3 separate regions of the Homo sapiens genome follow, and regions 1 and 2 are each linked to region 3. Evidence: fine-mapped expression QTL. A gene starts in region 3. Each other region holds a variant in brackets. All regions are shown on one strand. Distances are from middle to middle.

The links.
Region 1: its variant is fine-mapped to the expression of MTX1 in whole blood (TOPMed, PIP 0.93).
Region 2: its variant is fine-mapped to the expression of MTX1 in whole blood (INTERVAL, PIP above 0.99).

What each region holds. Positions count from the first base shown.
Region 1 is chr1:155,739,677-155,744,676 of GRCh38, reverse strand. No RefSeq gene overlaps it. Among named protein-coding and RNA genes, the nearest start is that of DAP3, 53 kb to the right of the region's middle. The variant C/G (reference allele first, on the strand shown) is at 2,267.
Region 2 is chr1:155,154,011-155,160,644 of GRCh38, reverse strand. No RefSeq gene overlaps it. Among named protein-coding and RNA genes, the nearest start is that of KRTCAP2, 16 kb to the left of the region's middle. The variant C/T (reference allele first, on the strand shown) is at 3,719.
Region 3 is chr1:155,205,923-155,210,922 of GRCh38, reverse strand. It overlaps MTX1 (metaxin 1), which reads right to left and starts at 2,228. Exons shown (of 8, transcript NM_002455.5): 1 at 1,591-2,228; 2 at 508-577; 3 at 296-375. The coding sequence starts at 2,118. It overlaps THBS3 (thrombospondin 3), which reads left to right and starts at 3,026. Exons shown (of 23, transcript NM_007112.5): 1 at 3,026-3,125; 2 at 4,517-4,723. The coding sequence starts at 3,047. RefSeq lists a silencer at 1,679-1,878 and an enhancer at 3,242-4,025.

The DNA.
Region 1 (5,000 bases), 530 kb before region 3:
CTGTAATCCCAGCAGTCTGGGAGACCGAGGTCGGCGGACCACTGAGGTCAAGAGTTGTAGACCAACTTGGCCAACATAGTGAAACCCGTCTCTACTAAAAATACAAAAATTAGCTGGGCATGGTGTTGGGCGCTTGTAATCCCAGCTACTCCGGAGGCTGAGGTAGGAGAATCACTTGAACCCCGGAGGTGGAGATTGCAGTGAGCTGAGATAGCACCACTGCACTCCAAACTGGGCGACAGATCAAGACTCCGTCTGAAAATAAAAAATAAAATCTTAGCCTCTCTTGTCTATTCTGAGCTCCTTGTAATTCCATATTTATTTAGTCTTATTTATTTATTTTGAGACAGGGTCTCACTCTCTTGCCCAGGCTGGTGTGCAGTGGTGCAATCTCGGCTGACCGCAGCCTCAACCTCTTGGGCTGAAGCGATCCTCCCACCTCAGCCTCCTGCATAGCTGCAATTACAGGCATGGACCACCACCACCTGGCTAATTTTTTTTATTTTTTGTACATATGGGGTTTCACCGTCTTGCCCAGGCTGGTCTCAAACTCCTGAGCTCCTGAGCTCAAGTGATCTGCCCACCTCGGCCTCCAAAAGTGTTGGGATTACAGGTGTGAGGCACTGTGCGCAGCTACCATTTCACTTCTAAGTATGATGTGGGCTGAAAAGTTTCTGTAGGTACTCTGACAGCTTAAGGAAATTCTGTATTCCTGTTTTGCTAAGAATTTTGGTCATGAATAGATTTGAATGTTTTTTACAGCTTTCTCCGCACTAAGATAATTACATTATTTTATCATTCCTTTGTTGCACTAATGAATACATCTGATTTTCATGTAATACTATCTTGCATTCCTAAAATTATCCCAAACTCATTTATGTTGATTATCCTTTTAAAATACTGGATCTGGGTTTGGCGTAGTAGCTCATGCCTGTAATCCCAGCACTTTGGGAGGCTGACGTGGGTGGATCACCTGAGGTCAGGAGTTCGAGACCAGCCTGGCCAACATGACAAAACCCCCTCTCTACTAAGAATACAAAAATTAGCCGGAGTCTCGTCCTGTCGCCCAGGCTGGAGTGCAACGGCACGATCTCAGCTCACTGCAACCTCCACTTCCCGGGTTCAAGCGATTCTCCTGCCTCAGACTCCTGAGTAGCTGGGATTACAGGTATGCGCCACCACACCCGGCTAATTTTTGTATTCTTAGTAAGGGTTTCACTATGTTGGCCAGGCTGGTCTCAAATTCCTGACCTCGTGATCTGCCAGCCTCAGCCTCCCAAAGTGCTGGGATTACAGGTGTGAGCCACCGCACCTGGCCAATTTTAATATTTTAAAATATTTAATTTTTAATTTAATTTTTTATTTTTTTTTGAGATAGGATCTCACTTTGTTACTCAAGCTGGAGTGCAGTGGTACAAACAGCTCACTGCAACTTCAACCTCTTGGGCTCAAGCCATCCTCCCACCTCAGCTCCCGCAAGTAGCTGGGACTACAGGCATGTGCCATCACGAATCCAGCTAATTTTTTTTTTTTTTTTTTTTTTTTTGAGACTGAGTCTCATTCTGTCACCCAGGCTGGAGTGCAGTGGCGTGATCTCAGCTCACTGTAACCTCTGCCTCCTGGGTTCAAGCAATTTCCCTGCCTCAGCCTCCCGAGTAGCTGGGATTACAGGCGCCTGCCACCACGCCCAACTAATTTTTGTATTTTTTTAGCAGAGACAGGAGTTTGCCATGTTGGTCAGGCTGGTCTTGAACTCCTGACCTCAGGTGATCTGCCCGCTTTGGCCTCCCAAAGTGCTGAGATTACAGACGTGAGCCACTGCGCCTGGTCAATTTTTGCATTTTTGGTAGAGATGAGGTTTCACCATGGTGCCCAGGCTGGTCTTGAAGTCCTGGGCTCAAGCAATCCTCCCGCCTCGGCATCCCAAAGTGCTGGAATTACAGGCCTGAGTCACTGTGCCCTGCCAGCCAGTATTTTCAACGTACAAAATTTTTAAGTTTTGTGTTTAGTAATTTCACAATCATTTAATTTGAATTACTTTCTCATTTCCATTCTGATCTTTCTCCCTGACCAATGGGCACATCAGAAAAGTATGTTTTAATTTCCAGACACATGAGGAGTTTCTATTTCTCTTTTTGTTACTGGTTTCTAGTTTAAATTGCATTAGAATCAGAGTACACGGCTGTATGATTTAAATTCTTTGAAATATATTGAGCTGGTTTATGGTCCATTGTCAGTCAATTTTGAACAGGTTCTTTATGTGCTT[C/G]AAAAGAAAGTACATTCAGAAGTTTTGGGATTTGATAGGTGGAAGGTGAGGCCAGAAAGGCAGGTCCACTCCGTATAACTTCTATTGAAAAAGATCTGTGAGGCCGGGCTCGGTGGCTCACACCTGTAATCCCAGCACTTTGGAAGGCCGAAGTGAGCGGATCACCTGAGGTCAGGAGTTTGAGAACAGCCTGGCCAGTATGGTGACACCCCGTCTCTGCTATAAATACAAAACAGCCGGACGTGGTGGTGTGCACCTGTAAGCCCAGCTACTAGGGAGGCTGAGTCAGGAGGATAGCTTGAACCAAGGTTGCAGAGGTTACAGTGAGCCGAGATCATGCCACTGTACTCCCGCCTGGGCAACAGAGCAAGACCCTTTAAAAAAAATATATATGTGAATAAGTGGACCCATGCAGTCCAAAAACGTTATTGTTTAAGGGTCAACAATAATGACCTGATGTATTTTCTACTTTTTAGAACAACAGATGCTTATTAAATTAATAATATGTTTATTAAAGCATTATTTCATAATCTGCCTTTCTAGAAGTTTGATGATGTCCAAGTTCAGCTTTAGGCAACTTAATTTGCTCTCTTTTCTCTCTGCCTTCCTGGGTTAAAGAAAAGGATAACTGTAGTTAGGCTATTAAAAATAAAGTATGTGAATGTAAAAGAGCTTCTACCAAAAAAAAGTTGTTTGGGGATTCAATTTTTAAAAATACTTCCATTAGGACAAGTGTTAATCATGCTACTCAATCTTTTATATCCTTACTTTTTTTTTTTGAGACAGAGTCTCACACTGTCACCGGGCTGGACTGCAGTGGCGCGATCTCGGCTCACTGCAGCCTCCGCCTCCCAGGTTCAAGCAATTCTCCTGCCTCAGCCTCCCAAGTAGCTGGGATTACAGGTGCCCGCCACTATGCCCGGTTGATGTTTTTGTATTTAGTAGAGACGGGGTTTCACTGTATTACTCAGGCTGGTCTCAAACTCCTGACTTCAGGTGATCCACCCGCCTCGGCCTCCCAAAGTGCTGGGATTATAGGCGTGCACCACCACACCCGGCCCTCTTTTGAATTTTTACTTGCAATTTTAGATTTGTCTCTTGAAGGGTAGCATTGCGTTTGGGTGCATTAGGTCTTCCCAGAAACAGACGATGGGGTTATAGCCTGGCCAAAGTCATTCAAGCCTATACGCCCAGCAATTTGGGAGGCTGAGACAGGTGGATCACTTGAGTCCAGAAGCTTGAGACCAGCCTGGGCAATATAGTGAGATCCCATCTTTATTAAAAAAAAAAATCAAAATTAGCCACGTGTGGTGGTGTGTGCCTGTAGTCCTAACCACTCGTGGAGCTGAGGTAGGAGGATTGAGTCCAGAAGGTCGAGGCTGTAGTGTGGCCTTACACTCCAGCCTGGGTAACAGAGAGTGAGACCCTGTCTCAAAATAATATTAATAAAAACATAAACTTTAGGTCAGTTTCCCTTTTTTATTTCCTTTTTGTTTTTTGAGACAGGGTCTTACTCTGCAGCTGAGGATGAGCAGTGGCATGATCACGGCTCACTGAAACCTCAACCTCTGGGGTTCAAGTGATCCTCCTGCCTCAGCCTCCCAAGTAGCTGGAACTACAGGCGCATGCCACCATACCTGGCTAATTTTTGTATTTGTTGTAGAGCCTAGGCTTCTCCATGTTGCCCAGGCTGGTCTCAAACTCCTAGGCTCAAGTGATCTGCCCACCTCAGCCTCCCAGCATGCTGAGATTACAGGCATGGACCACCGTGCTTGGTCAGTTTTCCAGTTTTGCAAAAAACCTTCTGAAATTTTGATAATGATTGCATTGAATCTATAGGTCAATATGGGAATAACTGCCATCTTATTACTGAGTACTCCAATCAATGAACATGGAGAATCTTTCCATTTAGTAAGATCTTTTAAATTATCATCAGGAATATGGTTTCTAGGCTGGGCGCGGTGGCTCACACCTGTAATCCCAGCACTTTGGGAGGCCGAGGTGGGTGGATCACAAGGTCAGGAGATCGAGACCATCCTGGCTAACACGGTGAAACCCTGTCTCTACTAAAATTTCAAAAAATTAGCCGGGCACGGTGGCGGGTGCCTGTAGTCCCAACTACTCGGGAGGCTGCGGCAGGAGAATGGTGTGAACCCAGGAGGCGGAGCTTGCAGTGAGCCGAGATCGCACCACTGCACTCCAGCCTGGGTGACAGACCAAGACTCCGTCTCAAAAAAAAAAAGAAAAAGGAATATGGTTTCTAGTGTACATTTAGCAGTTATTTTGTTCAAGTTATTTATTAGAGATTCGGTCTCTCTCACTCTGAGGTTTTGCCATATTGCCTAGCCTGGGAAACCAAGCTACATTCTGTCTCTACTGAACACTAAAAAATTAGCCAGGTGTGGTAGCACACACCTGTGGTCCCAAGTTACTAGGGAGGCTCAGGCAAAAGGACTGATTGAACCCAGGAGTTGGGGCTGCAGTGAGCTGTGATCATGCCACTGCACTCCAGCCTGGGAGACAGGGCAAGACTGTCTCTTAAAAATATATAAATATAAATTAAAAATATATATATAACATATATATAAAATATATACAAATACATATAACATATATAATACATATACATAATATATAGGACCCAATATTATGAGTAATATACTATATATTGTCATATACAATATATAATATACAACCTATTAGTATACTACTTTGATAGTTATATATTACTGTC
Region 2 (6,634 bases), 51 kb after region 3:
CCTGAGGGGCAGCACCAGGATCACACACACACACACACACACACACACACACACCCTATTGGTTCTGATCATCTGGAGAACCCTTGACTAATACACCCTGTTTCAGTAAAATGAAATGGGGTTAAATGAAAGAAAGGCTAATCTGCTCAAGATTATACACAACCGATAAATGAAGGCGGAATTGGAGTTCACATTCAGATCCATCTGTGCCCACCATGTTGCTTAACCAGCATGACTACAGTGCATGGTTACAACACACCATCTGGCTCCTGCCACCTCTCTGATGTCGCCTCCTTGCTCTCTTCCCCACACTCACTCCATCCTGCCCCCAGACCCTGCATGTCCCCTGTGCCAGGCACGTTTCCACCTCGCGGCCTTTGCACTTGCTGTTCCTGTGCCTGAAACGCTTTCTCAGCAGATATCTACACTTCTCTCTTCTGTATGTCATTCAGGTCTCTGTGCAAATGTCTCCTTCTCAGACAGGCCTTTCTGATCGTGCTATATGACACAGTACAGCCTGTCACCTTCTAGCCCCTTACCTTGCTATACTTTTCTTCATAGTACTTTTCACTACTTGGTGAATATATGTTATTTTTATTTTTAGTAGAGATGAGGTCTATGTTGCCCAGGCTGACCTTGAACTCCGGCCTCAAGTGATCCTCCTGCCTTGGGCTCCCAAAGTGCTGGGATTACAGGTATGAGCCACTGGGCAGGTTTAGTTGGTATATTAAATGTTTATTTTTGTCTTGTCTGTCTCCCATCACTAGAGTATAAGGTTCATTGAAGGCAGAGAATTTGTCTATTTTGTCCACTAGAATGCTGTTTGGCATAGAGTAGGTGTTCAACAAATGTTTATTAAAAGAAGAACCAAGGGCCAGGTGCCGTGGCTCACGTCTGTAATCCCAGCACTTTGGGAGGCTGAGGCGGGCAGATCAGCTGAGGTTGGGAGATCAAGACCAGACTGACCAACACGGAGAAACCCCATCTCTACTAAAAATACAAAATTAGCTGGGTGTGTTGGCACTTGCCTATAATCCCAGCTACTCGGGGGGCTGAGGCAGGAGAATCACTTGAACCTGGGAGGTGGAGTTTGTGGTGAGCCGAGATCGCGCCATTGTACTACAGCCTGGGCAACAAGAGCAAAACTCTGTCTCAAAAAAAAAAAAAAAAGAAGAAGAACCAAGAACCCCATTGGCAACACACCACTCTTGTACTTTGAGCCCTTTGTTGAAACTCAACTTCTACCCTGCATCAACTCCAAATTGCTGAATCCTCAGAATGATCCAGATGTTTTTCTCAGCTGCTCAGACCTGTTCCTGAGTCTGTCCACCTTCAGGCTATCATATTTTCCCATCTTCGTCTCTTGTAGCTTACCTTCTCTAGGAAACCCTGACTCACCCAGCCCCTTCTCCACTACTCCCCTTTTAAAAGTTTGTCTGTGTTTTTGTTAATTGCATGTGCTTTTGTCCTGTTGCCCTATGGAACTGTGGGTGCCCTGAGGGCAGGGATGAAGTCAACACAACCTGACTACCTGAAACCTTCCCCAAGGACCTAGTAATTACCTTGACACCTGTGGACATCCAGAAATCCCTACTGCCTGACAGGCATACAAGGGGGGCTGCCCACCCCTCTAAGGGGTGGGGCCACTACTCAGGGACCAACTTGGTTCACACCGTTCTCCTGCCTCAGCCTCCCAAGTAGATGGGACTACAGGTGCCTGCCACCACGCCCCGCTAATTTTTTGTATTTTTAGTAGAGACGGGGTTTCACCATGTTAGCCAGGATGGTATCAATCTCCTGACCTCGTGATCCACCTGCCTCGGCCTCCCAAAGTGCTGGGATTACAGGTGTGAGCCACCGCACCTGGCGGTTTTATTTGTTCTTATTGGATAGATGGTCCCCAACTTATGATGGTTCAATAAATGATTTTTTGATTTTACAATGGTGTGAAAGCGATACTCATTTGATAGAAACCCCAACTTGTGTACCCATACGGCCATTCTGTTCTCACTTTCAGCATAGTATTCAATAAATTTTATGAGATATTCAACAATTTATTATAAAATAGGCTTTGTGTTAGATGATTTTGCCCAACTGTAGGCTAATGTAAGTGGGTTTTGTTTTGTTTTGTTTTTTTGAGATGGAGTCTCACTCTGTCGCCCAGGCTGGAGTGCAGTGGCACGATCTCGGCTCACTGTGAGCTCCGCCTCCCAGGTTCACGCCGTTCTCCTGCCTCAGCCTCCCAAGTTGCTGGGACTACAGGCGCCCACCACCACGCCCAGCTAATTTTTTGTATTTTTAGTAGAGACAGGGTTTCACCATGTTAACCAGGATGGTCTCGATCTCCTGACCTCGTGATCTGCCCGCCTTGGCCTCCCAAAGTGCTGGGATTACAGGCATGAGCCACCATGCCTGGCCAGGGTAATGTAAGTGTTTTGAGCATGTTTGAGGTTGGCTAGTCCAAGCTATATGTTTGGTGGTTTAGGTGCACTAAACTCACTTCGACTTACAATATTTCCAACTTACGATGGACTTATGGGGGTGTAGCCCCATCAGAAGTCAGTCGAGAAGCATTTGTATAATAAAGTGTCAACAGTTGGAAGATTAGCATCACTCAGTGAGTCAATATTAATATCTTCAAATATTACAAAATTATGCAAGAGTAAAGGATCTATGCAAAGTGCAAGAGAAACCAATGAATCATAATGTAACAGAGTATGAAAAGTCCACTGATACAGTTTTATTTATTTATTTATTTATTTATACTTGTTTAAAATTGTGGCCAGGTGCGGTGGCTCATGCCTGTAATCCCAGCACTTTGGGAGGCCGAGACAGGCAGATCATTTGAGGTCAGGAGTTCAAAACCAGCCTGGCCAATATGGTGAAACCCCATCTCTACTAAAAATACAAAAATTAGCCAGACATGGTGGTGGGCACCTGTAATCCCAGCTACTTGGGAGGCTGAGGTAGGAGAATTGCTTGAGCCTAGGAGGCGGAATTTGTAGTGAGCCGAGATGGTGCCACTGCACTCCAGCCTGGGCGACAGAGCGAGACTGTCAAAAAAAAAAATTGTTTTATTTTTAATTTTTGTGGGTACATAGTGGGTGTATATATTTATGAGGTACGTGAGATATTTTGGTGTAGGCATGCAAGGCGTAATAATCACATCATGGAAAATTAGGTATCCATTCCCTCAAACATTTGTCCTTTGTGTTACAAACAATCCAATTATCTTCTTTTAGTTATTTTAAAAAGTACAATTAAATTATTATTAACTATAATCCCCCTGTTGTGCTATTAACTACAAGGTCTTACTCATTCTAGCTATTTTTTGTACCCATTAACCATCCCTACATCCCCCTACTATCCTTCCCAGCCTCTGATAACCATCCTTCTATTCTCCATCTCCATGAGTTCAATTGTTTTTATTTTTATTTTTGTTTTTTTACTTATTTTTATTTTATTTTATTTTATTTTTATTATTATTTTTTGAGATGGAGTCTCGCTGTGTTGCCCTGGCTGGAGTGCAGTGGTGCAATCTTGGCTCACTGCAACCTCCGCCTCCCAGGTTCAAGCGATTCTCCTGCTTCAGCCTCCCAAGTAGCTGGGACTACAGGTGCGTGCCACCATGCCCGGCTAATTTTTTGTATTTTTAGTAGAGATGGGGTTTCACCATGTTAGCCAGGATGGTCTCGATCTCTTGACCTCGTGATCTTCC[C/T]ACCTCGGCCTCCCAAAGTGCTGGGATTACAGGCGTGAGCCATCGTGCCCGGCCTGTTTTTAATTTTTTATGTATTTTTTGAGACAGAGTTTTGCTCTTGTCGCCCAGGCTGGAATGGCGTGATCTTGGGTCACTGCAACCTCCGGCTCCTGGGTTCAAGTGATTCTCCTGCCTCAGCCTCCTGAGTAGCTGGGATTACAGGTGCCAGCCACCATGCCCAGCTAATGTTTACATTTTTAGTAGAGATGGGGTTTCACCACGTTGGCCAGGCTGGTCTTGAACTCCTGACCTCAGGTGATCCACCCACCTCAGCCTCCCAAAGTGCTGGGATTACGGGCATGAGACACCACCCCTGGTCTGTTTTGATTTTTAGGACCCATAAATAAGTGAGAACATGTGATGTTTGTCTTTCTGTTCCTGGCTTATTTCACTTAACATAATGACCTCCAGTTCCATCCATATTGTTGCAAATGACAGAATTTAATTCCTTTTTTATGGCTGAATAGTACTCCATTGTGTATATGTGCCACATTTTCCTTATCCATTCATCTGCTGATGGACACTTAACGTGCTTCCAAATCTTGACTATTGTGAACAGTGCTGCAACAAACATGGGAGTGCAGATATCTCTTTGATATACTGATTTCCTTTCTCTTTTGGTATACACCCAGCAGTGGGATTGCTGAATCACATGGTAGCTCTATATTTAGTTTTTTTGAGGCATCTGTAAACTCTGCTTGCACTAATTTACATTCCCACCAACAGTGTAGGAGGGTTCCCTTTTCTCCACATCCTTGCCAGCATTTATTATTACTTGTCTTTTGGATATAAGCCATTTTAACTGGGGCAAGATGATATCCCATTGTAGTTTTGATGTGCAGTTCTCTGATGATCAATGACGTTGAGCACCTTTCCATATGTCTGTTTGCCATTTGTATGTTTTCTTTTGAGAAATGTCTACTCAAATCTTATGCCCATTTTAAAATCAGATTATTAGATTTTTTTCCTAAAGAGTTGTTTAAGCTCCTTATATATTCTGGTTATTAATCCCTTATCAGATTGCAAATATTTTCTTCCATTCTGTGGGTTGTCTCTTCACTTTGTTGTTATTTCCTTTGTTATGCTTTTTAACTTGATGTGATCTCATTTGTCCATTTTTGCTTTAGTTGCCTGTTCTTATGGTATATTACTCAAGAAATTTTTGCCCAGACCAATGTCCTGGAGTTTCCTCAATGTTTTCTTGTAGCAGTTTCATAGTTTGAGGTCTTAGATTTAAGACTTTAATCCATTTTGATTAGATTTTTGTATATGGCGAGAGACAGGGGTCAAGTTTCATCCATTTTTTTTTCCTGTGCAATCTGCCTCCCTTGTTTCATTCTTCTGCATATGAATATCTAGTTATCCCAGCACCATTTATTAAAGAGAATGTTTTTTTCCCCAGTGTATGTTCTTGGCACCTTTGTCAAAAATGAGTTTACCATAGGTGTATAAATTTGTTTCTGGGTTCTCTATTCTGCCATTGGTCTATGTGTTCGTTTTTATGCCAGTTCCATGCTGTTTTGCATACTATAGCTCTGTAGTGTAATTTGAAGTCAGGTAATGTGATTCCTCCAGTTTTGTTCTTTTTGCTCAAGATAGCTTTGGCTATCCTGGATCTTTTGTGATTCCATACAACTTTTAGGATTGTTTTGTCTATTTTCGTGAAGAATGTCATTGGTAGTTTGATAGGGATTTCTTTGAATCTGTAGATTGCTTTGGGTAGTATAGACATTTTAACAATATTGATACTTCCAATCCAGGAACATGGAATATCTTTCTATATTTTTGTGTCTTCTTCGATTTCTTTCATCAGTGTTTTATTCTTTTTCTTTCTTATTTATTTATTTATTTATTTATTTTTGAGATGGAGTCTCACACTGTTGCCCAGGCTGGAGTACAGTGGCGTGATCTCCTCTCACTGCAACCTCTGCCTCCTAGGTTCAAGTGATTCTCCTGCCTCAGCCTCCTGAGTAGCTGGGACTACAGGTGCACACCACCACCCCCGGCTCATTTTTGCATTTTTATTAGAGACAGGATCTCAGCATATTTGCCCGGCTGGTCTTGAACTCCTGGCCTCAGGTGATCCACCTGCCTCGGCCTCCCAAAGTGCTGGGATTATAGGCATGAGCCACCGTGCCCAGCCTTTCTTTCTTATTTATTTTTGTAGAGATGGGATCTCACTATGTTGCCCAGGCTAGTCTCAAACTCCTAAGCTCAAGCAATCCTCCCACTTTGGCCTCCCAGAGTGCTGGCATTACAGGCATGAGTTACAGCTCCCGGCCTCATCAGTGTTTTGTAGTTTTCATTGTAGAGATCTTTCACTTCTTTGGCTAAGTTAATTCTGAGGTATTTAACTTTATTCATGGCTATTGTAAATGGGATTACTTTCTTGATTTCTCTTTCAGATTGTTAACGATTGACATAGAGAAATGCTACTGATTTTTGTATGTTGACTTTGTATCCTGCAACTTTACTGAATTTGTTTATCAGTTCTAATGTTTTTTTCGTGAAGTCTAGGTTTTTCCAAATATAAGATCATATCACCTGCAAACAAGGATAATTTGACTTCTTCCTTTCCAGTTTGGATGCTCTTTATTTCTTTTTTCTTTTTTTTTTTTTTGAGACAGAGTTTCGCTCTTGTTACCCAGGCTGGAGTGCAACGGCGTGATCTCAGCTCACTGCAACCTCTGCCTCCTGGGTTCAAGCGATTCTCCTGCCTCAGCTTCCCAAGTGGCTGGGATTACAGGCATGTGCCACCACGCCCAGCTAGTTTTTTATTTTTAGTAGAGACGGGGTTTCTCCATGTTTGGTCAGGCTGGTCTCGAACTCCTGACCTCAGGTGATCCGCCAGCCTCGGCCTCCCAAAGTGCTGGGATT
Region 3 (5,000 bases):
GCCCTTAGAAATCTCTCTCCAGTCCCACCATCAGAGGCCAACTGCTGTCTTCCACTCTCCTTCAGCCTGTGCTCCTCTCCCTCCCTGCCTCACAGTGCCCTAAGTTTCATCTCTTGCCGACTGCTTTAATACATCACAGTGACATTGTGTGTGTCTCTGCCACAAGACTGTTGCTCCTTGATGCTCTGGGTCACCTGCATCTAGCATGGCATATATCTGGTGCTCAATAAATGTGTATTGTATAGAATTGACTGAACTTCTCTCACTGGCAGCCCCCTCTATCCAAGTCACCTACCTCTTTTCGAAGGTGGGTGATGATCTTGTGTGGAACTGAGATGACCTCTCCATGACTGGTCCGAAGGGCAGGCAGAGTTCCTGATATTGAGAGGGAAGTATACCAACCAGACCCTTAGCTGCCTAGTCATACATAGTTGCAACACATTCCTGCCTATTTCTTGCTTCTCCCCTTGTACACACCCTTCCTTACCCCCAAGGGATACTGGGTACCTGAAGGGCTCTGCCAGGGGTTGCTGATCTTGTGTACCTTCAGTGGAGCACCAGTAAATCTGGCATAGGTCTGCAGGGAAGGAAGCAGAAGTCAGAGAGGCAGAGCCATGTCCCCCACAGTGGTATCAAGAAGAGAAATAACATTTATTGAATACCTTATGTGCCATTCCCTATACTTAGTATCTTAGTCTCGAAAAAAAAGGGGGAGTCACTACCATTTCTATTTTACAAATGGACAACACAGGGCTCAGAGAGATTCCGGACATGTCTGTGATTACAGGACAGCCAGGAAAATCCTTTCCTCTATCTCCTCTCTTGCCATCTACCTGGTGAACATCTATCCTCAGAAGCTTTTCCTAACCAGTATCCCTCTTCTTGGAAGCACTGATAATGCCCTTCTCTTTGGCAGTATCTGTGGTCTGTTCCTACTTTAACTTATATGTGAATATTTTATTATATTTATTTGCTTACCTATCTGCCTTTCTGTAAACTCGAAGGGAGGAACCAAATTTTATTCATCTTTGCCTGGCAATGTTTAATATTTGGAAGAAATCTAATAGATCCTCTTTAAAGCAAGGAGTCAATGAATAAATGAAGCAAAGGAAGTCTGATTGCTAAGCTCTTTATACAAAGCCTGGCTGTGAGTCGTTTGGTCTAACAAACAATAGCCTCAGTAAATGCTGTTAAGTGAGGAGGAAGAGGAGAAGGGGGCTGAGGAGAAGGCAGGAATTCCAAGCTAGAGTAGGTCCCTGAGACAGTCCAGCCTAGTAAACCTCCGAATGGAGAAAAAAAATGCCCAAAGAGAAAGGATCTCCGCAAGGTCACACAGCCAGTGAATGGATGAGCAAGGACTAGAACCCATCACCTGAACTCCCAACCAGGCGTCTTTTCATTGCTGCATTAAGCCTAGAAAACTACAGCATAGGGCACTGAGGCCATATCGGCCACGTACGCTCTTTGACTGCCTCAGTTTCCCCCACTGCGCCCGTGCTGAGTAGCCCTGGCAAGGTTTGGATGCTTGGCTAGTTCGGCCCCCTCCCCAGTCATCAGGGCACAGCAGAGGGCGCCGGCGCCACCCCTCACCAGCACGGCCAGGCTGTCCAGGTCCACTGACGGCAGCCCCCAGCCCCCTGACCAGCAGAACAGCTCCATGGGCGCCGCCATCTTGCCCACCCTCTGTCCCGGAAACACTTCCTTGTGTGCTTCTGCCCTCCCCTGCCTGGGCCCGCCCCCCGCCACCGCCCCTCCGATCGTTGCGGTCAGGGGGCCTGGGGAGATCCCCGGGGAGGCGAGGCTTCTTCTGGCCCGACTGGCAGCTGAACTGCGGGGGACTGGGCCGCGGGCCTCGGGGGAGGGCGGCCGCCGGCCCATCCAGAGGTGGCCCACGTAGCGGGACAGCGCTGTCGGCCCGGCGCGCCTCGGAGAGTCACGGCGCCTCGTCCAAGTGGAGCCCCGAACCCCTGAAGGCGCGGCAGGCTCTGGAGAGCGGGGTCTTGTGCGCCTGGGCCAGGTCTGGGGGCTCTTGCCAAACTGCACGTGGCCTGTACTGCTCCAGGGCCCCTTGGGGCTCGTCCCCGAGCGGGGACTGCGGGGGGGTCCCCCGAGCAGCATGTTTTCCACAGCGCGTTATGTTTGGAGCGGGCCCTGCGCCGCCTGTCGCCATGGAAACAAAACAGGGGCGGTGGCGGCGGCCGGAGCGGAGGCCGGGCTGGGGCTTGGGTGGGGGAGGGGAAGAGAGGCTCGCAGGCTGTCGCTTAGGTGACGGGAACTCAGGCGCCCCTCTGCTTCATCCGGGTCACGGCCCGTCCGCTAGTACCCACAGTGTTCCACAGTCTGGTCCTTGGCTCCTCGCCTGTACCCCTGGTCTTCTGCGCCTGTCCCTGGTGTCCCTTTCCTCTTTTTTGGTTTCTTCACTCTGACCTCACTGACCACTGCTTTAGATTCTCCCTTCAGTTCCCGTCAGACGCTTCCAGACTCCCAAGCTTTCCTACGAATGAGGGAAAATGGAGAAACAGGCACTTGTCAGGGGACCCCCCACCCTAATAAAGAGCACTTGCTCCGCCAGAACAGCAAAATTCATGCCATGTGGGCATCCCTGGGCACTATAGCAAGCTAGTTGCGGCCACTCCCTTGGCATCCTTTCCTGCCAGCTGTGGAATAATGCCCACTGTCTAGCACTGCCCCTGCCAGGGGTTCTTGCCTTCCACAATCGTGGCTTCCAGAAAACAGTGGCATTCGGTAGCGCTGTGTGCCGAGACCCCCAACAATGATGACTGCGGAGAGGGAGGCACCTGGGGGAGGATCATTAGGGAGAGGTAGAAAGCAGGGAGGCCTCCAGGATTCTTTCCCAGTGCCCCTGGTTCCCAGAGCTGATGATGCCTCCAGGGTGATTGGCAGCTCTTTGTTTCAGCCCCCCCTCACCCGCCTGCTGGCCCCCCCTCCAATTCTGTCCCTCCGCCCCCCGGCTCCTGCTCTCTCCGCCTAGCCTTTTCCCCTCCCAGCTGCCTGCCTGCCAGGGGTAGTGAGCCGGCTGAGAGGCATGGAGACGCAGGAACTTCGGGGGGCCCTGGCTCTTCTCCTCCTTTGCTTTTTCACATCTGCCAGTCAGGATCTGCAGGGTAAGCCTGTCTCCATCCTCTTAGACCGCTCTCTGCTTCTTCCCCATTTGCCCTCAGCCCAAGTAGCAGAGAACATGTGGGCAAGGGGAGAGGGGAAGAGTCCAGAAATTGAGCCAGAGGAAAACTTAAGACTGCCTAGAGTTGGTGAAATTATGGCCTGGTGGAGAGGAGTGGGCACCGGAGAGTAGTGGGGGAGCTGGAACAGGACAGGGTCAGGCATGAGGCCAGGGCAGAGGACTCAGGAACTGGATGCTCAGGCTGCCTGGCTGGGGTGGTTCCTGAGCATCTGTAGGCACCCTAGGGTCTGGGAGAGCAGCCTGAAGGTGGGCGTACTGTAGGTCCCTGGGCTTCGTCCCCCTGGGCTCCTGGCTGCCCAAGGACAGGGCGGGGGTGGGGACCAAGAAGCCTGGGCTCTCCCGGAGGTCTGGTGGTGGGATGGGCCGATGGATGTGGGAGAGGTAGCTGGAGCAGATGACACAGGCATAGATTCTTTACTGGCTGGAGGGAAAACCACAGATTGGCCAGGACACAGGAGGCAGAGGAGCTGGGTCCTACATTCCCGTGGGAGATAGCCCAGATGGTGGGAGGGTTAGAGTCCTCAGTGGGCAGCTGTTCTTATCCAGAGCGAGTGTGCTGCGCCCCTAGGATGGGAGGAGGGGAACTAGGGTGTGGAACGAGCCAAACCCAGGAGTGGAAAGAGAAGCTGCCTTCCATTTCTACGTTGTGGACACCAGGTGCCACTCCTGTGGGGGATCAGCACAGCATCTCCTTTGCGCCACCTGGTGGGGGCATCTCAAATTTGTGGGGTGCTGTTTCTGTGTTTCCAAGTGAGTCTCAAACCTGCAGGTTCCTGGAAGGTAGTAATAGGCAATAATGGGGAAAGGAAGGCACAGTGCCTCTGTCCTCTGAGAGCAACAAGGGTTGAGGTTTTTTTTTGTTTTCGTTTTGTCTTTTTGAGATGGAGTTTCACTCTTGTTGCCCAGGCTGGAGTGCAATGGCGCGATCTCGGCTCACTGCAACCTCCACCTCTCAGGTTCAAGCGAGTCTCCTGCCTCAGCCTCCTGAGTAGCTGGGATTACAGGTGCCCGCCACCACGCCCGGCTAGGTGGTTTTTTTTTCTTTTTTGTTGTTGTTTTTGTATTTTTAGTAGACACGGGGTTTCACCGTGTTGGCCAGGCTGGTCTCGAACTCCTGACCTTAGGCGATCCACCTGCCTCAACCTCCCAAGGTGTTGGGATTACAGGTGCGAGCCACCATGCCCAGCCAAGGGTTGAATTTTGAGGTGACTAACGCTGCCTGGTGGTGGGGGTAGGGGGTGATGTGGGCTCGGGGGAGGGCATACCTTAGCATTTGATCCCATTCTCTAACCTTGATAACCCCTGCCTGACCAGTAATTGACCTGCTGACTGTGGGCGAGTCTCGGCAGATGGTAGCTGTGGCAGAGAAGATCCGGACAGCCTTGCTCACTGCTGGGGACATCTACCTCTTATCCACCTTCCGCCTGCCCCCCAAGCAGGGTGGTGTCCTCTTTGGCCTCTATTCTCGCCAAGACAACACTCGATGGCTGGAGGCCTCTGTTGTAGGCAAGATCAACAAAGGTGACTGGTGGGCATCTCCTTTCTTGCAATGGTGACCTCCTTAAGCACTCTCCCTCATCCCTACTTCCCAAGTGCTTCCTCATTCTCCTTGGCCTCCACTAGGGACCAAGGTCCCATCAGGCTGTGCCCAGACATCAGGGGCACCTGGTATGGGGTGCTTATAAGGTGCTTTAGGAGCCCATGTACCAAACAATAGGGTGAGGCTTGAGTCCTGATATTTATAGGGATGGGAGGTTGTACTTGGGGATGCCTGGAAGGAGGGTGAGGCATGTCTCTG